4 separate regions of the Homo sapiens genome follow, and all the other regions are linked to region 1. Evidence: fine-mapped expression QTL. A gene starts in region 1. Each other region holds a variant in brackets. All regions are shown on one strand. Distances are from middle to middle. Region 1 holds the start of ATRN (attractin). Region 2 overlaps ATRN (attractin). Region 3 has its middle 28 kb from the start of DNAAF9. Region 4 overlaps SMOX (spermine oxidase).

Evidence for each region. PIP is the estimated chance that this variant, and not a neighbour inherited with it, causes the effect.
Region 2: its variant is fine-mapped to the expression of ATRN in whole blood (INTERVAL, PIP above 0.99).
Region 3: its variant is fine-mapped to the expression of ATRN in whole blood (TOPMed, PIP above 0.99).
Region 4: its variant is fine-mapped to the expression of ATRN in cerebellar hemisphere (GTEx, PIP above 0.99).

What each region holds. Positions count from the first base shown.
Region 1 is chr20:3,468,305-3,473,454 of GRCh38, forward strand. ATRN (attractin) reads left to right here and starts at 2,714. Exons shown (of 29, transcript NM_139321.3): 1 at 2,714-3,213. The coding sequence starts at 2,804. RefSeq lists an enhancer at 2,301-2,440 and a silencer at 2,541-3,100.
Region 2 is chr20:3,618,669-3,623,818 of GRCh38, forward strand. All of the region lies in intron 24 of ATRN (attractin), which reads left to right. Among named protein-coding and RNA genes, the nearest start is that of GFRA4, 42 kb to the right of the region's middle. RefSeq lists a silencer at 2,326-2,525. The variant G/A (reference allele first, on the strand shown) is at 2,134.
Region 3 is chr20:3,433,560-3,438,709 of GRCh38, forward strand. No RefSeq gene overlaps it. Among named protein-coding and RNA genes, the nearest start is that of DNAAF9, 28 kb to the left of the region's middle. The variant T/C (reference allele first, on the strand shown) is at 2,639.
Region 4 is chr20:4,155,028-4,160,177 of GRCh38, forward strand. The region is part of intron 1 of SMOX (spermine oxidase); the gene reads left to right. It overlaps LOC124904861 (a long non-coding RNA gene), which reads right to left. Exons shown (of 2, transcript XR_007067504.1): 2 at 3,536-5,150. Among named protein-coding and RNA genes, the nearest start is that of SMOX, 8.8 kb to the left of the region's middle. RefSeq lists enhancers at 912-1,081, 2,610-3,110 and a cis regulatory region at 997. The variant G/T (reference allele first, on the strand shown) is at 3,146.

The sequences.
Region 1 (5,150 bases):
CAAGGTCTCACTATGTTGTCCAGGCTGGTCTCAAACTCCTGGCCTCAGGTGATCCTCCCACCTTGGCCTCCCAAAGCACTGGGATTACAGGCATGAGCCACTGCACCCAGCGTGTTTGTTTTTTAAGGACAAAATAATTTGAGCATGTTTGAAAGCTAAGGAAAAAGAACCAGAGAAGAGAGTAGATTAAGGAAGTAAGAAAGAATGTTTGCTGCAGCAAGATTCTAAGGCTTCAGAGTAGCAATATCTAGTCTAGGGATTGCTGTTCTTCAGATGCACACCTTTTCTGTTATCCCTGAATGTTGGTAAAATCATGTGAAACTTCACAGTGTGGGTTCAGTCTTGCTGTGGGGAGGGAAGGGAAGGAAAGGGCTGGTTCACTTCTGGCCTGGAAGATTAGGGGGAGCAATGTCTCCTACAGCTAGGGCATGGCCTATGCCAGCCTCCCCATCTGATGGGGTCCTGCCAGAGGGTAGGGCCATGTCTTCAATTTCAAAATCCTACATGGCAAAAACATAACCTGCAAACCAGAATGTCAGTGCTAGGGCCTAGGCCGAACAATAGTTTTCCTGTAGGAATGGGGAGTATGTGTGGATGTAGAGCTGGGGGTAAGGCTTTTGTGCAATTCAGCTTCACCAGGCTTGAAGAAGATGCAGTGAGGACAGTCAGGACCTGAGTATGAGAGTGGGACCTGGGTATGAGTGTGGAAATCCATCTTAGAACCTTAAAATTCCATACTCTGAGGTAAAGCTGAGAGGCTCCACAGGTCTATGAGGGTTTTTCTTTGTTTCCCAGGGACTGTAAGGTGCCCAGATTCTGAGGTAGGTGCCATAGGAATATTCCTCATAGCACAAGCATTATGTCGGACAATGTTCTGCTTATCTATTACTGAGTAACAAACCTCTCTAAAACTTAGAGGCTTAAAATAACATAAATCATAATTTATGAAAAATTATAAATAATTCATCACTTAAGGGTTAAATGATAAATGAGTTATTTCTTAGGATTTTGGATAAGTCACAGTTAGGAAAGACCTGTTACTGTTGTAGGTAACATGGAACAGCCCAGACGGTTGGAATAACCCAACCCAGATAGCTTCTTCACTCAATGACTGATCCCTTAGCTAGGATGGCTCCACCAGCTGAGCGGCCCAGCTCTCCCTCTCCAAGTCCAAGTGGTCTCTGCACATGGTTTCTCTCCAGCAAGGTGGCTAACGGGGTGCAGCTCATGACCACCAACAGCTCAAAATCAAGGCTGCCAGGTCTTTTTTTTTTTTTGAGACAGAGTCTCGCTCTGTCCCCCAGGCTGGAGTGCAGTGGCGCGATCACGACTCTCTGCAACCTCTGCCTCCTGGATTCAAGCGACTCTCCTGAGTAGCTGGGATTACAGGTGTGTGCCACCACGCCCGGCTAATTTTTGTATTTTTTGTAGAGACAGGGTTTCACCACGTCGATCAGGGTGGTCTCGAACTTCTGACCTCGTGATCTGCCCGCCTCGGCCTCCCAAGGTGCTGGGATTACAGACGTGAGCCACCGTGCCCGGCCAAGGCTGCCAGGTCTTTTTTAAGCTCAGAGCTAGAAACAAGACATTGCTACTCCTACCAACTTCTTCTATTGGTGAAATTGAGTCATGGTTTCTCATGGTCTCAATCATGACCCAGCCCAGATTCCAGGGTCAAGGACCATAAAAGGCTACATTGATGGAAGACATGTCTCATTGAGGGACACCAGAGTAACAACTACCAGACAAGAAGGGGCAGGTCTGTGTGAGCGCCATTTCCTAATTCTATATTGCCCACTCTTCAGAGAAGATGGTTGGAGGGCAAATTGTGGGGAGCAAGGTAACTCCAAACTTTTACAGAATTAAAGGTAGGGGGTCTGGTCAGCTACAGTCCATCTGTTATCAAGAGGCCTGGCTGTGTGTCTTCATTCAGTTTATTAGGCATTTACTGAGCACAGCCTACATGCCAGGTTCTTCATTTTTTGACACAGGGTCTTGTGTTGCCCAGGCTGGAGTGCAGTGCTGCGACTGCGGCTCACTGCAGCCTTGACCTCTCCAGACTCAAGCGATCCTCCTGCCTCAGCCTCTGGAGTAGCTGGGGATACAGGCGCGCACCACCATGCTCGGCTAATTTTTGTATTTTTAGTAGAGACAGTGTCTCACCCTGTTGGCCAGGCTGGTCTCGGATCCCAGAGATCAAGTGATCCGCCTGCCTCAGTTTCCCAAAGTGCTGGGATTACAGGCGTAAGCCTCCGCGCCCGGCCTATGCCAGGTTCTACATGTGTTCTTTCTTGACTCTTGTGTTACAGAGGCTCGAATGAAGCCTGGCTTCTACAGTACCGCACCCAGCACCTCGCTGCGATGCAGCCTCCTGTACCCTTTCCGTCCGGCAGCTGGAGTTAGGGCAGAGTGCCGGGTCTCTAGGAGGGCAACACTCAACGCAGTCGGCTCCTAGGCATCCAGTGGGGCTGCAACCCCGCCGCCGGGGACGAAAGGCGAAGGGGGAAAACTAGAGCTTTCGCCGGCCGGGACAGCGCAGCCGGGTTTCAGCTCGTTCTACGGTCCACGTCAGAAGATCGCCTCCGGCGCCGCGGACGCCGGAGACCACTGTCTGCGCCCCCGCACGCACGCACCCACGTACTCGCGCACGCGCGCGCCGGCCCCGCCCACCGCCCCGCTGTGGCCCCTTTGGACCGCACGAGCCACCGTCCGCACAGCCCCGCCCCGCACGGCCAGGCGAAGCGGAGCCGGCCGTGCGGTGTGTGTGTATGTGTTCGCGGGGCGCCGTCTCAGCCCCGGGAAGATGGTGGCTGCAGCGGCGGCAACTGAGGCAAGGCTGAGGAGGAGGACGGCGGCGACGGCAGCGCTCGCGGGCAGGAGCGGCGGGCCGCACTGGGACTGGGACGTGACCAGGGCTGGGAGGCCGGGGCTGGGGGCCGGGCTGCGCCTCCCGCGGCTGCTGTCTCCACCGCTGCGGCCACGGCTGCTGCTGCTGCTGTTGTTGCTCTCGCCGCCGCTGCTGCTGCTGCTGCTGCCCTGTGAGGCCGAGGCCGCGGCGGCGGCGGCGGCGGTGTCGGGCTCAGCCGCAGCCGAGGCCAAGGAATGTGACCGGCCCTGTGTCAACGGCGGTCGCTGCAACCCTGGCACCGGCCAGTGCGTCTGCCCCGCCGGCTGGGTGGGCGAGCAATGCCAGCACTGCGGGGGCCGCTTCAGGTGAGTGGCGGGTGGTGTCGGAGGGTCGGGTCCAACCAGAGGCTGGGGCTGAGGGGCGTTCGAGACGGCTCCAGGTCAGAGGGAGATGCTGGACAGAAAGTGGAGAGGGTAGGGCCGCCCTATGGGGTTTGAGGGCCATTTGCTTCCGGGGAGATCATCGTCTCTGGCCTGGGGTCTTTCTCTGTTGGAAGGTGAAAAGGTGTGGGGCAAGGGTGGGGGCACCCCGACGGTATTTGGGTGCTTAGGTTAGTTAGATGGGAAGAATGCTGAGGGACCCAAAGAGCATCAAAGCCGATCGCTCTAAAACTCGGCGTGTTTCAGCTAAACGAGGTATCCAAGGAAAGGTGGTCGAGCCAGGTTTGCTTGAACACTTCCTTTTAACATCCACATGTGCCCTAGGACCCGATGAGTTCCCCGATGCACTGGAGATGTGGGGTGCTCTGAAGAAACAGGGCCCTGGAAATGCTTTGTTGGCTGGAGATAAAAGGGAAAGGGTAGCATTGTAAGATATTAGGGATAGAAGGACCAGTGGTCCTTCTAAAGGAAAGTGAGGAAACTAGCCTTTTGGCAAAAGCTCCCTGGAGGTGGCAAATTGGAATAGGGTCTGTGGTGAAGAGGGAATGGAAGGAGATTCCTATTTGCCTTGGTTTCTGGACAATATGAAGTTCTGAATTGGCTTAGTTTGGGGCAGTTCCTCTTGGAGAAATCAATAAATTAATTAGCAGTTATCGTTATTTGCTTCAGTTGTGCAATGATTTTCCAGATAATACAGACAGATTAGCCAGACTTTGGCCTTGTCCACAGGGAGTTTGGAATATAGCAAGAGAAAGATAATGTGCGCACATAACCCTAGTCATAAGGGTTACAGAGTCATTCACGCCTTTGACAGGTATTTAGCTTACTGAACACATGTCTGATGTGGGGGAGTGGGGAAATGTGAACAAGACAGACAGGGCCTCTGCTCTCATTGACCTTAACATTCTAGTGGGAGCAACAGGCACTTAACAAGTAAATAAATGAGAGAAATAAACATGGTAATTTCAGGTAATGGTAAATGCTATCAAGAAAATAAAAACAGCGTGGTCTGATAGAGAATTATAACCGGTGGTGACTCTTGGAGAGGGTTCTCATTTGAAATGACATTTGATCTGAGACCTGAATGAGGCAACAGGGAACTTGTGGGAATTCAGGGATGGAGAGGTTGTGGCTAGCTGGAGGGATGCAAGGAGGACTTTGAGGAGGCGGTAACATTGGATTTGAGCATGTAAGGTTAAGTAGGATTTGGAAATGTGGAGCTGGAAAAAAATTACAGATGGAAAGAAGGGTGCAAACAAAGTTGTGGAGGCTGGAAAGTAAAGTTTTGCTGCTGCCTATGTGGAAGAGAGTTGTGAGAGAGGAGTTTGGAATAGCAAAATTGTAGACTTAGGTAATATTAGGTCTTCTGAGGAACTCAGAGAACGTTGAGCAGATGAGCTCTTTAGTTTTATGGATGGAGAAACCAAGTTACTTCAGGACCACTGATGCAGTGAAGCTGCTTTTGTAACTTAGGGTGTTCTGATTTATGAATTCCATTAACCTACATGTATTTGTTGAGGGCTCCTATGTTTTAGGTTGTGAGATACAGTGGTATACAAGACAGGCACAGTCCTGCTCTTACGGAGCTCACATTTCAGCTTGGGAGTAAAAAAATCCAACAAAAATTTTATTGTAATTTTGTTTAAGGCTGTGGAGGTAAAGAGCAGGAGACAAACAGAGGACTTGACTTAGTCTAGGGGTAAGGTAAGTCACTGAGGAAGCGATGTGAAGTCTGAGGGGTGAGATGGTACTACCTGCGTGAGGGGTGGGGTGCTGAGGGGCCAGCAGGTACAGAGGCTTGGGGTTGAAGCGGATGGAAGGCCAGGTGGCAGGAGCAGAGAGAGCAAAGGGGAGCTTGGCAA
Region 2 (5,150 bases), 150 kb after region 1:
AATGGCATTAACTGGCCATGGGGCTCTGACCAGAGCTTGGGTATACAGTTTCTGTGCCAGCACAAACCAGCATTAGGTGCGTGGTGTGTGAGGCCGGGTGATGGTCATATGGATCTGGTCCAGAGCTGTGGTCTTGACATAGAGTTCCATGTATGAACTTTGGTGGTGGTGGTGGTTTTGTTTCGTTTTTTAAGAAAAAAGGAAGAGTTGTTTTATGTCACAGCCAAACTCAAGGAGGTGACAGCACAAGACCCAGGTTAGAATGTACTTAGCCAGGGCTCACGGAATCTTCCATCCTTTGCAAAGCCAAGAAGAGTAGAGGCCTCAAGGAGAATAGAGGAGCACATGGGCTCCTTCTGGGCTGAGCTCTCACCCTTGGTGGGGCCGCTGGTCCCAGGGGGTCGTTGGGAGCCTGCGGAGATTCTGCCCAGTACATACATACCTTGCGTTTTCTCGGAGCCTGACAGGTGCTGCCTTGAAGCGGAAAGACTTCACCTCACAGGGTGGCCAGCTGTCCTTTCTCTTCCTCTCCCTGTCTTGTGTGCTCATGATAATGGATAGATAGACATCTCCATGGTAGAAATAATGCAGCCCTTTCTGCAGTCCATGGTTCCACAGCATATGGTCAGTAGACTTAGATGAGTGCTACATAAAGTGTAATTAGTTCTGCACCACGGTGTCTTACCTTCTGAAAAGGAAACTCTGGTATTGACTTAGAAATGCCAGTTTTATCCTTCCGACCAGAACGCAAGTCCTGAATGAGGCCAGAGGCCAATGAAAGGTCCTTTCTTCTCTCTTTTCAAATCTGCTGTATTAAACAGTGACTTTTCCTAGTCATTCAGTATTCATTCATTCATCCATTTATTCAAGTTTTTGAGTACCTTCTTTGTGGATGGCACATAGTAGATGCAAAAATACAATCATTTTTAAAATGGAAAGCATTTGTTATGTGGTAGTGGAATATAAGAAATGCCATGCTTCCATATTTTTATGGTAATCTTGGACTCAGGTTCTACCCACCATACTTAATTAGAAATTCATTCTCAGCCTCTGTTTTGGCAGAGACCCATTCTCTTCCCTCAGGAACATACAGAAACCTCAGGGCTGAACTGAGCTCAGAGGTTGGGGAAGGTCCCCTGGTCTGATCTTCAGTCGCTGACTGCTGCGCCCGATTCCCTGGCCCCTCACTCTTGAGGGCAGCATCCTCACTCTTGTGTGGCACAGGCTTGGACATAGAATGACACTTAAGCACCAGAGCCTCCCTAGCCTGCCACAAGGACACCCTACATTCCCAGGCACTTTCAGAATGCAAAACCTCCCCTCCATTCCCTCCCTTTCCCTGCCTCCAGGTTTGGGCCCTGCCTCTCCTTTTGTTTCAAAGCACTGTCCTCTCTTCCTCTACCCTTATCCTTCCCCATCTCCCTCCCACTCCCCAAAAGAGCCAAACTAATTATGGGGATTTAACCTTCCAATTAAAGGCGAGGATTTTTTTTTTTCAATGCAGTTCCTGAAATGCTAAAGAAATTGTCCAGGGAAAGGAGCACAGGAGGAGTTTTGTTTTGTTTTGTTTTGTTTTGTTTTGTTTTGTTTTGTTTTGAGACAGTCTCGCTCTGTCACCCAGGCTGGAGTGCAGTGGTGCGATCTTGGCTTACCGCAACCTCTCCACCTCCTGGGTTTGAGCAATTCTTGTGCCTCAGCCCCCCAAGTAGCTGGGATCACAGGTGCACACCACCACGCCAGCTAATTTTTGTATTTTTAGTAGAAATGGGGTTTTGCCATGTTGGCCAGGCTGGTTTCGACCTCCTGGCCTCAAGTGATCCACCCACCTCAGCCTCCCAAAGTACTGGGATTAGGCGTGAGCCACTGCATCCAGCCTGATGTTTAAATAATTTCTTACTTCAGAGTTTCCTGAAGTGTGGCCTATGGAGACTAGCATCAGAATCACTGGAGGAGCTTAAAGATATAGAGACAGGGATAGGGCCTGAGATTCTGACTTTGTTGTAAGCTATCCAGAGTTTGAGAGCCATGGCCTAGTTCTTGGAATACAAAAGTGTATCTGCTCTTGTATGGGAGGTAGGAAGTTACCTTTTCATTCATTCTTCTACAACAGTAATTTAAAAGTTAGGAATTGGT[G/A]TCTTCATAGACAGAAGAATGCAGGAATCCTCTTCTCAGGATGTCTGTCTTTACACAGCCATGGTATATGGTAGACCAAGTTTGTCCAACCCATGGCCCGCGGGCTACATGCAGCCCAGGACGGCTTTGAATGCAGCCCAACACAATTCATAAACTTTCTTAAAACATGATTTTTTTATTTTATTTTTTTTTAAGCTCATCAGCACTATCGTTAGTGTTAGTGTTAGTGTATTTTATGTGTGGCCAAAGACAATTCTTCCAGTGTGGCCTAGGGAAGCCAAAAGATTGGACACCCCTATATAGACCATAATTATCACACGCCCTGAGAGGGAAGCAGATCAATGGTGAGGGAGCGTAGAGGAGAGCCTGCCAGAGTTTCCAGTGGGGCCGGGGATGCTTAAAAACGGAGGCAGTGATGTGCTGAGCCAGAAAGGACAGGGAGGACCCCCATGCACACAGGCAGGGAGGCTCTCTGGTGACATCTGCCGTCAGGTACAGTAGTACAGTAGTAGAGTGAGCGGAAGCACTTTTGGCTGAAGTGCAACATTAGTGATTGAGGAAGTGCAGGTCCGTAATATCTTACCCCAAACCCTGGGGCTCACTGAGCTTCCGAGTTCAGAGTTTTTCAGAATTGATGAACACATCCAGAAGGCCCATGGGGCAGATACACCTTAGACATATTGATGAAAGTGGAGTTGGAATTGGGTTGTGGAAGTCGTAGGACGTGAATTCTAGGTTTCTTGGAGTGTGGAGTATGGTGTCTACTGTTTGGAAACAGAGAAGAATGACATTATGAGTTTTATTTATAAAATAAGAATTTCTTCTTTGTATTAAAATAGATTTTTATATAGGAAATTTTCATTACCTTCAGTATCAGAAAGGCCCCCAAATCTATTTCACCGTTTCCATAATAAATTGTGAAAGAAAGATTTGATTGGGATATTGTCTTTAAAAATGAAACCAAAAAGTATGGGAAAATACTTTAATTTTAGAGTTAACAACATTTATAGTTACAATCATGAAGCAGGTATGGTGCTGCTTCATGAGCCAAGTTCATAAAAGAAAAAAAAATCAGATCTTACTGAGTTCTGTGAGACAGATCATTATTTTTCTTATTAACATATTCATTTATTCAGCAAATGTTTATTAAGTGCCAATTAATGTATCAGTGGCTGCTTTAGGCACTGGAGATATATGGTCAGTGGGATAAGGGGAAGTCTCTGTCTTCAATCCTCACAGATCTTATTTTCCATAAGTAAGTGTACAAATACGGGCTATGAATTAAATAGAGCAAGATAAAGAGATGGGGGTGTGGCTTCAGTTGTGCACATGGTGCCCAGAAATCTGATAGCTCCATCATGGAGTCCTTCACTTGAGACTTCACAGCAGGATGTAAAAAGCAACAGCCAGGAAACTCCTTAGTTTTCCCAAAGTCCTCCCTTAATCTCGTTTAGAGAATTATGAAACACTTCCTATGGCTTCATCCTTTATCCCTTCTTCAGTTGATAACTGAAGGGCTAAATCTGCCAAGTCTTCCTTTGCCAATGGTTTTGTGCGAGCAGTTCTCCAACAGCGCTTCCACTAAAATCTTGTCTTTTACAAGATGGATTTTACAGTTGGTTGGCATTGTATGACAGTCTGTGAGTAGGGACAGCCCAATGTATGTTTGTTAATCAAGTTTATGCCTTTTACATTGAGTAATTTTTAATTACCTCGTGTAATTTTTAACAGCACTCTCCTTCATCTTCAGAAGTGTTCAGTTTGAACAATAAGTTTGTCATCTTGTCAGTCAAAGGTTGACCAACAAAGACTGACCGCAGTGGGCGGGGTATTCAGCAGGGTTAGATGTTTCTAAGTGGTCAGTGCTTTCATAAACATTTTCACGTTATGACCTTTGCCTCCTCACACAATCTTGTAACTATGGAGACTTAGATGATAAAGATTCAACTAAGAGGATCCCTTTAAAGTCTTGGGTACCAGCCATACCAAAAGCTGTTTTATATGAGGTTCTTTATGATTATAATTTGGACATGAACATGGAGTGGTCCTGCTTCAGCAAGAAATCAGGCTAATAACCATTAGCATCCAGTGTGGGTAAAGGCGGGGGCTGCCCTGAGGAGTGTTGTGTGGCACAGGGCGCATGAACACCAGATAAGTCCTCAGACAGTGCCCTTAGCATCCAGTGGTTTTTGGCATCTAGCAGGGAGTAAAAGTATCTCATAGATTCTTTAAGTGTAAACACCGAGGACACACTTAACGTTTTAAAAGATTGAAATCCAGACAGGGCTGGGGTGGACTCTAATCTGTTTCCTTCTCTCTCTTTATGTGTTATAACTTGGATTCTTCATTCCCCAAAATGACCTTGTTTATATAATTCTCCAGTCTTATCTAAAACTTTTATGTGAGGACCATGGCTCATATTCCGCAGCTTTCCTTCTCTCAAGGAGCTAGGACTGGTTATTGTGATAAATGAAGGAAAAGAAAAGAAAGTGGGTTTCTGTTTATTGTATGAAATTGATGTAACTTTGTATTTCTGATTATAAATGGTAGCCAGAGGGAGGACACAAAAACTTCAAATTCCAAGCCCCATAATATATTATGGCCTGAATAGTGTTGGAATTTATTTATTTATGGAATGTCAAAAAGAAAATAGGGCCATCAAAAAAGCAAACAGTGGAAGTCTATTTTCTGGCCCCTGTGAGTCTGGCTCTAAAAACAGTGCAAGGGGTTGGGGTTTGGTGGGACTAGGAAAGCAGATGCTCGTCATTTACCTTCCTGTGTTTGTCATGAGAATTGTCTGTACTGGGATTGTCACCTTGGTCAGTAATTGTTTCGTTTATAGTACCATTGTCTCTCCAAAGAGGGCTGAGTTCCCTAAAAAAAAGCAGGCAGCGCACCACAACATCTGGCTAGTAGCACGTATATTATCGGTGATAGTAAGGACACAATTCTCGTATTTAATCAATTTGGAGGTATGCATTTTTTCGTGGGCTAATATCCCTGAAATCATGATGCAT
Region 3 (5,150 bases), 35 kb before region 1:
GCTCAGGAGGTTGAGGCAAGAGAATTGCTTGAGCCTGGGAGGTCGAGGCTACAGTGGGTTGTGTTGGTGCCATTGCACCCCAGCCCTGGTGACAGAACAAGATCCTGTCTCAAAAAAAAAAATATTAAATGAAAAAAGCAAGATGGAGAACACTGTACCTAGCATGCTATCATTAGTATAAACAAAAGACAGGTAGAGTCTGGATAACTGAGGGGAGCAGGAGGTCCCCAGGAAGGCCTGTTTTCCAAGGAAAGAGGAGGAACAGAGAGGACAGTGAGGGTGAGGGCGGCTGCTGTCTCCTAAATCTGTCACCTCCCCTTCTCTGCTTTGGCAGCCATTATGTCCATGGGTCTCTGGCTTGTCTTGTGCAATACTTCCTTGTGTTAAACTCCAAGATATCAATGGGCTGATGAGAGTTCCAGCGTGAGCTACGTGACTGGATGGGTGCTTGGAATAAGAATCCCATGCCCCAGAGAGCAAGACCAGCAAGACAATACTGACTAAGCCACTTTCCCCTGTAAGCCACCCTGGACCCACTTCTCAGTCCTAAGGACTAATGACATAAACTGGATGATGGTCACATAAAAATCTTGGTGAGATGCTGGAAGTCTAAAGTGGTCCCTTTGGGATCATAATGTAAGAAAGTGGCTTCAAGGCATATTTCAGCATAGAGTAACCTTGGCATTGGAAGCACTTTGCAAAAACATAAGAGGCCATGCTAACTCTTTTCATACAACAGAGGCCTGGCAGGTGACATTTCCAGAGGGAGAATGGAAGATTCTGAGAGCACTGCACAAGAGTCTCCCTTAGACACTTCTAGAACATATAGGAGGCTGTGGTAGAAGGGAACTGAAAGTTCAAAGTGTTGATCATGTGCACTGACTAAGCCTTTGTATTTAAAATCAAGATGACATCATAACGGCCTGATTTTCTTTCTTTCTTTCTTTCTTTTTTTTTTTGAGACGGAGTCTCGCTCTGTGGCCCAGACTGGAGTGTAGTGGCGCAACCTCGGCTCACTGCAACCTCTGCCTCATGGGTTCAAGCGGTTCTCCTGCCTCCCCAGGTAGCTGGGATTACAGGCATAAGGCACCGCACCTGGCCAACCTGATTTTCTTAAAAATAAATCTGGGTTTAGATTATTGGTAGAAACATTAAGTGATGTTGTGTCTTCTCAGTGCAACACACCAGTCAATTTTCACGTTGATGGTGATGCTAAGTGTAATCTGATGGTCAACGTGGTGACCTTCAGCTCTCTCTGTGGTAAAGATACGTTTTCCCTTTTGCGATTACTAAACAGCCTGTAGGGTGATACATTCAAACCTTATGAATATCATTTTTCCCAACCCCCTTTATCCTAATAGTTTTACATTCCATTGATGATGCCTGCCTGAATCAATTATTAATAGACTGGTCATAAAATGATGATTTTTCCATTTCTATCATTCCATCTACATTCACAATTTGGCATTCTTTTATGAAGAAGAGCTTTCTTTTCTTTTTTTTTTTTGAGATGGAGTCTCACTTTCTTGCCCAGTCTGGAGTGCAGTGATGCCATCTTGGTTCACTGCAACCTCTGACTTCCAAGTTCAAGCAATTCTCCTGCCTCAGCCTCCCAAGTGGCTGTGATTACAGATGGGCATCAGGACGCCTGGCTAATTTTTGTATTTTTAGTAGAGATGGGTTTTTGCCATGTTGGCCAGGCTGGTCTTGAACTCCTGACCTCAAGTGATCCACCCACCTCAGCCTCCCAAAGTGCTGGGATTACGGGTGTGAGCCACCTCACCTGGCCCTCTTTTCTACCCCCTTTAAAATTTTTGGTGTTGGCCAGGTGCAGTGGCTCACGCCTGTAATCCCAACATTTTGGGAGGCTGAGGTGGGAGGATTGCTTGAGCCCATAAGTTCGAGACCAGCCTGGGCAACATAGCAGGATCTTGTCTCTATTAAGAAAAATAATAATAAAATAAAATACCATTGTTGGTTGTTTTATTTATTTATTGTGGTGGTTGTTGTTTTGAGACAGAGTCTCTCTCTGTTACCCAGGTTGAAGTACAGTGACATGATCATAGCTCACTGTAACCTCGAACTCTTGGGCTCAACTGATACTCCTGCTTTGGCCTCCCAAAGTGCTGCGATTACAGGTGTGAGCACAGGCCAAAATTTTTGGTGTTAATATCAATAGAGACACATGGATTCCTTTTGATTCAATATATAATAATCCATTCCTGCATTATTCATATGAGGCTGAGATTGTCCCAGATTTTGACATGAGGGCCTCCATAAAAATGTAGATTGCAAGCCACCTTCTCCCTCTCCTCCAGTGGGGCCTGGGATTCTGCATATATAACTACCACTAAACTAAAATCTGAAACACCCACTAAATCTGAAAAGTTGAGGAAAAGCCCTTGCCAAGGACCAGCTGAGGAGTTTATGTTAAGAGTGGTTTCACACCCACCAGGCAATACAGCTAGAACTTGACAAGGGCATCCTCTGAGGCAAAGAAGGCCAGAATGCCAGCAAACGAAGATGCATCTTCTGGAGGTGGAAGGGGGTGAGGAAGAAATGGAGAGGTCAGGGCTGGAAAGGAGATGCTTATGGTTTTTTTCCTGCCTTGGGAAGACTATAGCAGACAAGATACCTA[T/C]TAATTCTTGCAACATTACAGCAATGGTTTTTCTGAGTAATAGGAACAGTTTGCTTCTATCCCCAAAGATGGAGAGCTCTTTGCTATTTGGAACCAAGTGTTGATATAGTCAGGAAAAGACCTGGATCAAGGGAGTGTATAAAGCACACAAGTGCACACTGTCACTCTTGCTGAACACTCCTGGTGAAATGTAGAAAAGACATGAAAGAGGGAAAGTAATACATCTACAGCAGCATCAGGAAACTGAAAAGCCAAAAGGCCAGGCATTTGATGAAAGTCCTGGACAATAGAGAGCAGGAGGAAATGTGGGATCAAAAAAGCAGAACTGGGCCAGGCTTGTTGGCTCACACCTGTAATCCTAACAATTTGGGAGGCTGAGGCAGAAGGATTGATTGAGGCCAGAAGTTTAAGACCAGCCTGGGCAACATAGTGAGACCCTGTCTCTACCAAAAAATAATATAAAATAAAAATTTTTTAAAAGTGGGGAATTGAGTCCATGCATTTGGGCCTACGTCCTCTCCAAACCTCACTAAAATAACAGTTAAAAAATAAAAAGGACAAAACTCACAAGGACAAAAAGAACAGACATTGAAACAAGATTGAGCTAGTGATGTCGAGAATAAATATTTCAGATGTTCTAGGCCAGGCATGGTGGCTCAGGCCTGTAATCTCAGTATTTTGGGAGGCTGAGGCAGGTGGATTGCTTGAGCTTGGGAGTTTGAGACCAGCCTGGACAACATGGTGAAACCCCATCTCTACCAAAAAAAAAAAAAAAATTACAAAAATGAGCCAGGCGTGGTGGCACACACCTGTGGTCCCAGCTACTCAGGAGGCTGAGATGGGATGATAGCTTGTGCCTGAGAGGTCAAGGCTGCAGTGAGCCATGAACACGCTGCTGCACTCCAGCCTGGGCAACAGAGTGAGACCCTGTCTCAAAAAACCAAACAAAACACATATTTCAGACATTCTCACCTGACACAGGTATTAAAGAGGAAATGATTCCACACTTGGGAAAATGGCAAAATTATGATTGCCTAATTCCTGAGATCTTAGGGGAACACTTTTTCAAACCCTGTTTCAATAAAAGCAGAACCTGCATCCTGGGAATTTACCCTCATGGGACACACCAGGGGAATGAAATTCCATTGCCACAATGTATGTAATCAATCCATAATGATTGAAGAAACAGACAGTTTTATGGTTCTATAAAGTTACAGTTTAACTTTAGAGACTAATAGGTTCTATGTTTTTATAGCCTGGTATAGTTTAACTTTAGAGACTAATAGGTTCTATGTTTTTATAGCCTGGTTGTGTGGTTAAATACAATGATTTTATTGCCCTGTGGAAAATTAATCAGTCTTGAATTTTACCCAGCAAATTGTCCTTGGAATTCCTTTAACTCTAGCTCTGTTCGTTTGTGCGAGCACACGAGGGTACACACACACACACACACACACACACACACACACACACACACACACAGAGTTTTTCTTTTTTTTTTTTTGAGACGGAGTCTCGCTCTGTCGCCCAGGCTGGAGTGCACTGGCGCAATCTCGGCTCACTGCAAGCTCCGCCTCCCGGGTTCACGCCATTCTCCTGCCTCAGCCTCCCGAGTAGCTGGGACTACAGGCGCCCGCCACCACGTCCGGCTAATTTTTTGTATTTTTAGTAAAGATGGGGTTTCACCGTGTTAGCCAGGATGGTTTCGATCTGACCTCGTGATCTGCCCGCCTCGGCCTCCCAAAGTGCTGAGATTACAGGCTTGAGCCACCATGCCCGGCCTCTTTGACATTTCAGTGTGTGAGTCCATCAGAGCATAACTGTTATTATCTTTCTTCTCTTTTTTTATCTTTGAGATGGAGTCCTGCTCTGTCGCCCAGGCTGGAGTGCAGTGGTGCAATCTCGGCTCACTGCAACCTCTGCCTCCCAGATTCAAACGATTCTCCCGCCTCAGCCTTCCGAGTACCTGGGATTACAGGTGCATGCCACCATGCCAAGCTGATTTTTGTATTTTTAGTAGAGACAAGGTTTCACCATGTTGGCCAGGTTGGTCTCAAACTCCTGACCTCAAGTGATCTGCCCTCCTCAGCCTCCCAAAGTGCTGGGATTACAGGTGTGAGCCACCATACCCTGCCATAACTGTTATTATCTTGAAAGCATGTGTTTTTATGGGTACTGGGACATCTGAACTCTCTGACGGAGGAGTGCGTCCTCGTAGGTGTCTTTATGGTCTTTCCTCAACTATAAACATCTGTAATCATGGGTAGTGACTGGCAAGGAATGTGCCCTGTTAGTCTCCAGATGGAGCTGAACTTTTAATTTGGCTCTTCTAGGCTCCTGCTTCCCTAACACAAAGTCACAAGTTTCTGCATTGAAAGGTCTTACCAGGAACCTAGAACAATGAATTAATTAAAAAATATCCACACAGGCTGGGCACAGTGGCTCACGCCTGTAATCTCAGCACTTTGGGAGGCTTAGGTGGGAGGATTCCTTGAGGCCAGGAGTTTGAGAC
Region 4 (5,150 bases), 690 kb after region 1:
ACCACGAGGGGGTATCTTGGGTGACTGTATCCCGGGGCAGGGTGACATGCAGACAGCACGGAGGGCACCTTATCTCTGTCCACAGCCGAGCCTGGCACTGTGGGCAACCAATCTGGGGTGAGCACCCTTCCTCCAGCCAGGGCGGGGCCGAGAGATTGGGGAAACAGCTGATCCGGCCCTCTAGCTCCAGCTGTGACGTGTCCTCATAGAAGACGGTAGTCTCCCCAGCTGCCGGGCCATCACCCCAGCGTGTGCAGTGCCTGTCACCCTGGCCCAAGTCCTTGTTGCTGCCGCTGATGGTTACGTGAGCTGCTGTCACTGATGGTTACATGAGCTGCTGTCGGGGGTCTTATCCCACTCTGGCCACCTCTGCGGCGTACGTGGGAGTGGGGGGGGCCTGGATGCTTCTCTCTGCTCTGCCCTGGCTGGGCCACTACAGGCAAGTGTCTGCTCCTCTCTGAGGTGTCAGTCTCCTCATCTGTAAACTGAGGGGTTCAGGTCCCTCCAGGGGGGTTATCACACGGTTTGCTGGGTGGGGCATTGCCTCTTCCCAGAGAGTCAGCTTAACACATTTTAGTTTAATATTAAATATTAAAGTTAATATTAAAACTCACATGCTAATGATGGGGTCGAATTAGCAATTTGCTTGGAAAAAACCATCCGGGTTGTTTTGGGGGTCTCCCAAGGCCCCTTGCACCTCAGGCTCTACATGGCCTGGGGTGCGTATCTGAGGACACTGGTGGGTTGAGTCCCCCCAGTTGCTGGAAGCGGGGTAGCAGTCACTACACCCAAAAGAAGGTACAGAGGGCAGACACAAAGGGCAAAGGTTCCACTGCCCTGGGCAGTGCCATGAGGGGCTGGCAGGGTAGGGGTTGACTGGCTCTCAGTCTGAGCTCCCCAGATATCCCACACACACCTCCTCAAAGGAGGGCAAGGCCAAGCCAATCACACCCCACTTTGATCCCTGCCCCTGGGCCAGGCCGTCCTGCGGGATGGGAGGGGATAACATTTCTCAAAGACTGTTCTGCGCAATCTCAAGCGTTCAGGGGACAAATAAGGGTAGAAACTGGCAAATTCACTCCACTACCCTACGGGAGATTCAGAATACATTTAAGAGAATTAAAGGTCCTGACAAGTCCTGTAGAAAAGAAACTGTTTAGTGTTTCCCAGCCTGATCTGACCGTGGAAATCTTTTTTTTAAATGACTGCCAATAATGTCCCACCCACCAGGAAAACACCTGCTGGGAAAAGCTGATGTGGAAAGATGCTGCTCACTGGAAGGCCACGAACATGGTAGCACAGGTGGACTTCCTGGTAGAGGTAGACTTGGTGGGATGGGCACATTTGGACAATCAGTAGAAGAAGAGGGCACTGCAGAGAGAGAGATGCCAGGCTCCCCTCTGAGGCCTCAGTTTCTTCATCTGTAAATCTTTGCCCCCCATGTCTGCCTCCCCACCTTCCTTTGGGTGTAGCAACTGCTACCCCCCTGCCAGTGCCTGGTGGGACCTCAACTGACCAGGGCCCTCAGATGTGCCCATCCCACCTCTACCAGGAAGCTCCCTGCCATCCTTCCTTTTCTCCCTGGTATTTCTGGGCCGAGAGCCAGCCCTGGGTTCTTGTGGCAATGGCTCTGCCTCACTGGGTGAATGAGGAAGGATCTGGAAGGACCTGTCTGGTGCCTGGGATCCCCAGGTAGCTGGGCCTGGGTCTTCTGGATTCTTTTTCTTTTTTTTGAGATGGAGCCTCACTCTGTCACGCAGGCTGGAGTGCAGTGGCGCAATCTCAGCTCATTGCAACCTCCACCTCCTGGGTTCAAGCAATTCTCTTGCCTCAGCCTCCCGAGTAGCTGGGATTACAGGCGCTCACCACCACGCCCTGCTAATTTTTGTGTTTTTAGTAGAGGTGGGGTTTCACCGTGTTGCCCAGGCTGGTCTGGAACTCCTGGCCTCAGGTGATCTGCTCACCTTGGCCTCCCAAAGTGCTAGGATTACAGATGTGAGCCGCTGTGCCCGGCCATCTTCTGGATTCTGAGAGGGCCTTTTCCTTATACCTCCCGGGCATTTCCTCGCTTTGCAAGTTCTCCCCAGCCTTTCATCTCAGAGGTTAACACAGCAGGGTTGTGAACTCTGGACAATAAGCTAAGCCTCTCTGTGCCTCCGTTCCCTCATTTGTACCATGAGGGTAATATTACCTCCCTCCTAGGGTGGCTGGGTTGTTGTGACACTCTAATACCGGTTGGCTGCTCTTACTACTGGATTTGACATGGCTGGAGGAGGGACCCTGGGGAGGGCCCTGTCATCGTGGACATGAGGGAAGAAAGCAAGAGCCAGCAGAAAGCGGCACAAGGCTTAGGTTGGGGTCCTGGTTAGACCAGAGTAGCCTGCAGAGGAGAAGAAAGAGGGTGTGGGTAGCTAGCAGGACTGGCTTCCTGGAGGAATGGCCAGTTAGGTGGGGAGATCTGGACAGAATGAGAAGTCACAGGTTTGAGTCTGAGAGTCAGAGGATCCTGGTGGGTGTGTGTAGGGGACAAGTGGCCTGCGGGCAGGGAGGAGGCATCAGGGACTACCTTCGTTCACTGGGCTGTGGCAGCCCACAGAAGGTTTTGAGCAGGGCAGTGATGTGATCAGAGCAGTGCATTAGTGAGACATGAGGCAGGGTGTGAGTGATGGTGGGCTGTGGGAGGGGGCGGTGCTGTGCCCCTTCATGGACATGAAGCTGGGGGAGGGGCCAAGTTGCGGACGTGACCCTCATTCTCAGACTCTCAGGGCAGTCAGTGAGGCTACCCTGCCTCGCCTCTGCCACACCTCCTTTCCTCTGTGGTGTGAGGCTCTTTGTTCAGCAGCTCAGGTGGGGGAGATGGGCTGTGGTATTTTTTATTTTTTATTTTTTTTGAGTTGGAGTCTCGCTCTGTCGCCCAGGCTGGAGTGCAGCGGCGCGATCTCGGCTCACTGCAACCTCCGCCTCCCGGGTTCACGCCATTCTCCTGCCTCAGCCTCCCGAGTAGCTGGGACTACAGGCGCCCGCCACCACGCCCGGCTAATTTTTTGTATTTTTAGTAGAGATGGTGTTTCACCTTGTTAGCCAGGATGGTCTCGATCTCCTGACCTCGTGATCCGCCCGCCTTGGCCTCCCAAAGTGCTGGGAT[G/T]ACAGGTGTGAGCCACAGCGCCGGTCGGGGTGTGGTATTTTAAATACCCAGGAGGAGCTACGGTGGTGCGTGGGGCAACATTGGCCCTCCGACCTGACCCGAAGGCCCTGGTGGGGCATGCTCAGTGGATTTTCCTACCCAGCCCTAGCTCCCCTCTCTTGTCCTCCTTTGCCCCTTTGTCTTTCTTCCTCAAGCATGTAGGAGCCCAGTGCTCTCTAAATCTGGGGCTGGGAGGTTGGAGGATGAGGAAAAGCATCTGGATTCAGGTGGAGCATGGTGGCCTAGCTGGGGGCATTGCAGCACCCCTTAGTCCAGATTCCCTTCTTCTCCACCTGCTTCTTGAGGGACGGCATTAAGGAAGGTGTGACTTAAAGTCAGAAGAACAAGAACTTGGAAGTGAGTTGCAATTTATTAGAAAACAGAACAAAGAATCTAGCCACCCCTGCCAACTCTGTGCTAGGCCCTGGCAGACACATGGGTCCTGTCTTCCCCATGCAGCCCCGGGGGCCTGAGTGAGGCATGATGGGTCTCACTCAGTTTCTGGGACATCTGTCTCGATGCCCTTTCGTCAACCCCATGGCTCTCTCAGAGCCTGTCCTCATACCTTCAACTGCTCCCCACCCATAACCAGATCTCCGGGACAGCCCAGCTCAGCCAGCGCACCTCTGATCCTGGCGGGTGGTGGTGATACTCCTTGCAGGCTGAGTTGGCTAGATTTTAGGATGACTCAAGCAGGAGACACCCAGCACCACCAAGGGGCATATATTCTTAGGAAATATTTTTAAATGATGCCTTTAAATGTTAAACACACAGGGACCTTTTACTCTCTCTTATTTTGGAAAATTAAAAAAAAAAAATCATACACAATGCAAAACCTTGAGAGTTAATCTGAAAAGGTTTGGAGTTTAAAAAGTAACTCAAGGAAAGATAATGAACTTGACTTCTTCATTAGATTTTTTTTTGTTTTTGAGACAGAGTTTCACTCTTGGAGTGCAATGGCGCGATCTTGGCTCACTGCAACCTCTGCCCCCTGGGTTCAAGCGATTCTCCTGCCTTAGCCTCCCAAGTAGCTAGGATTACAGGTGCCTGCCACCACGCCCGGCTAATTTTGGTATTTTTAGTGGAGACGGGGTTTCACTATGTTGGCCAGGCTGGTCTCAAACTCCTGACTTCAAGTGATCCGCCCACTTCGACCTCCCAAAGTGCTGAGATTACAGGTGTGAGCCACTGCGCCCAGCTGCTTCTTCATTAGATTTTAAAAAGAGCAAGGCCTGAGGCTTAATATATTACTAAGTAAAATTTAGAGGCAGGCTGATAGCAGGCTGTGGAACCTCTCTGAATCTCAGTTGCCTCCTCTGTACTATGGGGGTATTGATGTGAGGATTGAGGTATTCCACACAAAATGCTTGGCACTGCACTCTGTATCTCAGGTGTATTCAGCTAAAAATAGAGTGATAACAATGATGATAGGATTTTAAGAACAGACCTTTCTTGATGCTTCAAAAGCTAGTGAGTTATTCTCTCTTTGAACTCCACAAAAGGGCCTAAAGAATATGTTTATGTCCAAACTCAGCGTCTCCACTTCATAGGGGTCTTATGGATGAAATCATGGGCGCATGGCCCCTGTGTGCATTCTGAAATGAACCCCAGTGGCTTTTGAGACCTGGTTCCAGCCCTCGCGTGGGTGGGGGACTGTGCTTCATGGTTGAATTCTATGGAAAGTGCTTTATTGGTTAATCCTGTGGTCTTCTTAGGAGAGCACAGTTAATGTACCCTGAAGTCACCAGGAGGGGAAGGTCTCGGGCCAGTGATCGAGGACCGTCTAGAGGCAGTTATGAGTTACTTGCTTTTTGAATTTTCTTTTGTGCTGGCCAATGCAATTAGAACTTGTCCCTGGCCCTATTTATGGAGGAGGAGATCGAGGGTGAAGGACTGAGGCCTGGCTAGTTTAGTGCCTGGCAAGCCTAATCCAGCTGCATGGGGCAGGGAGACCAGGGTGACCTGC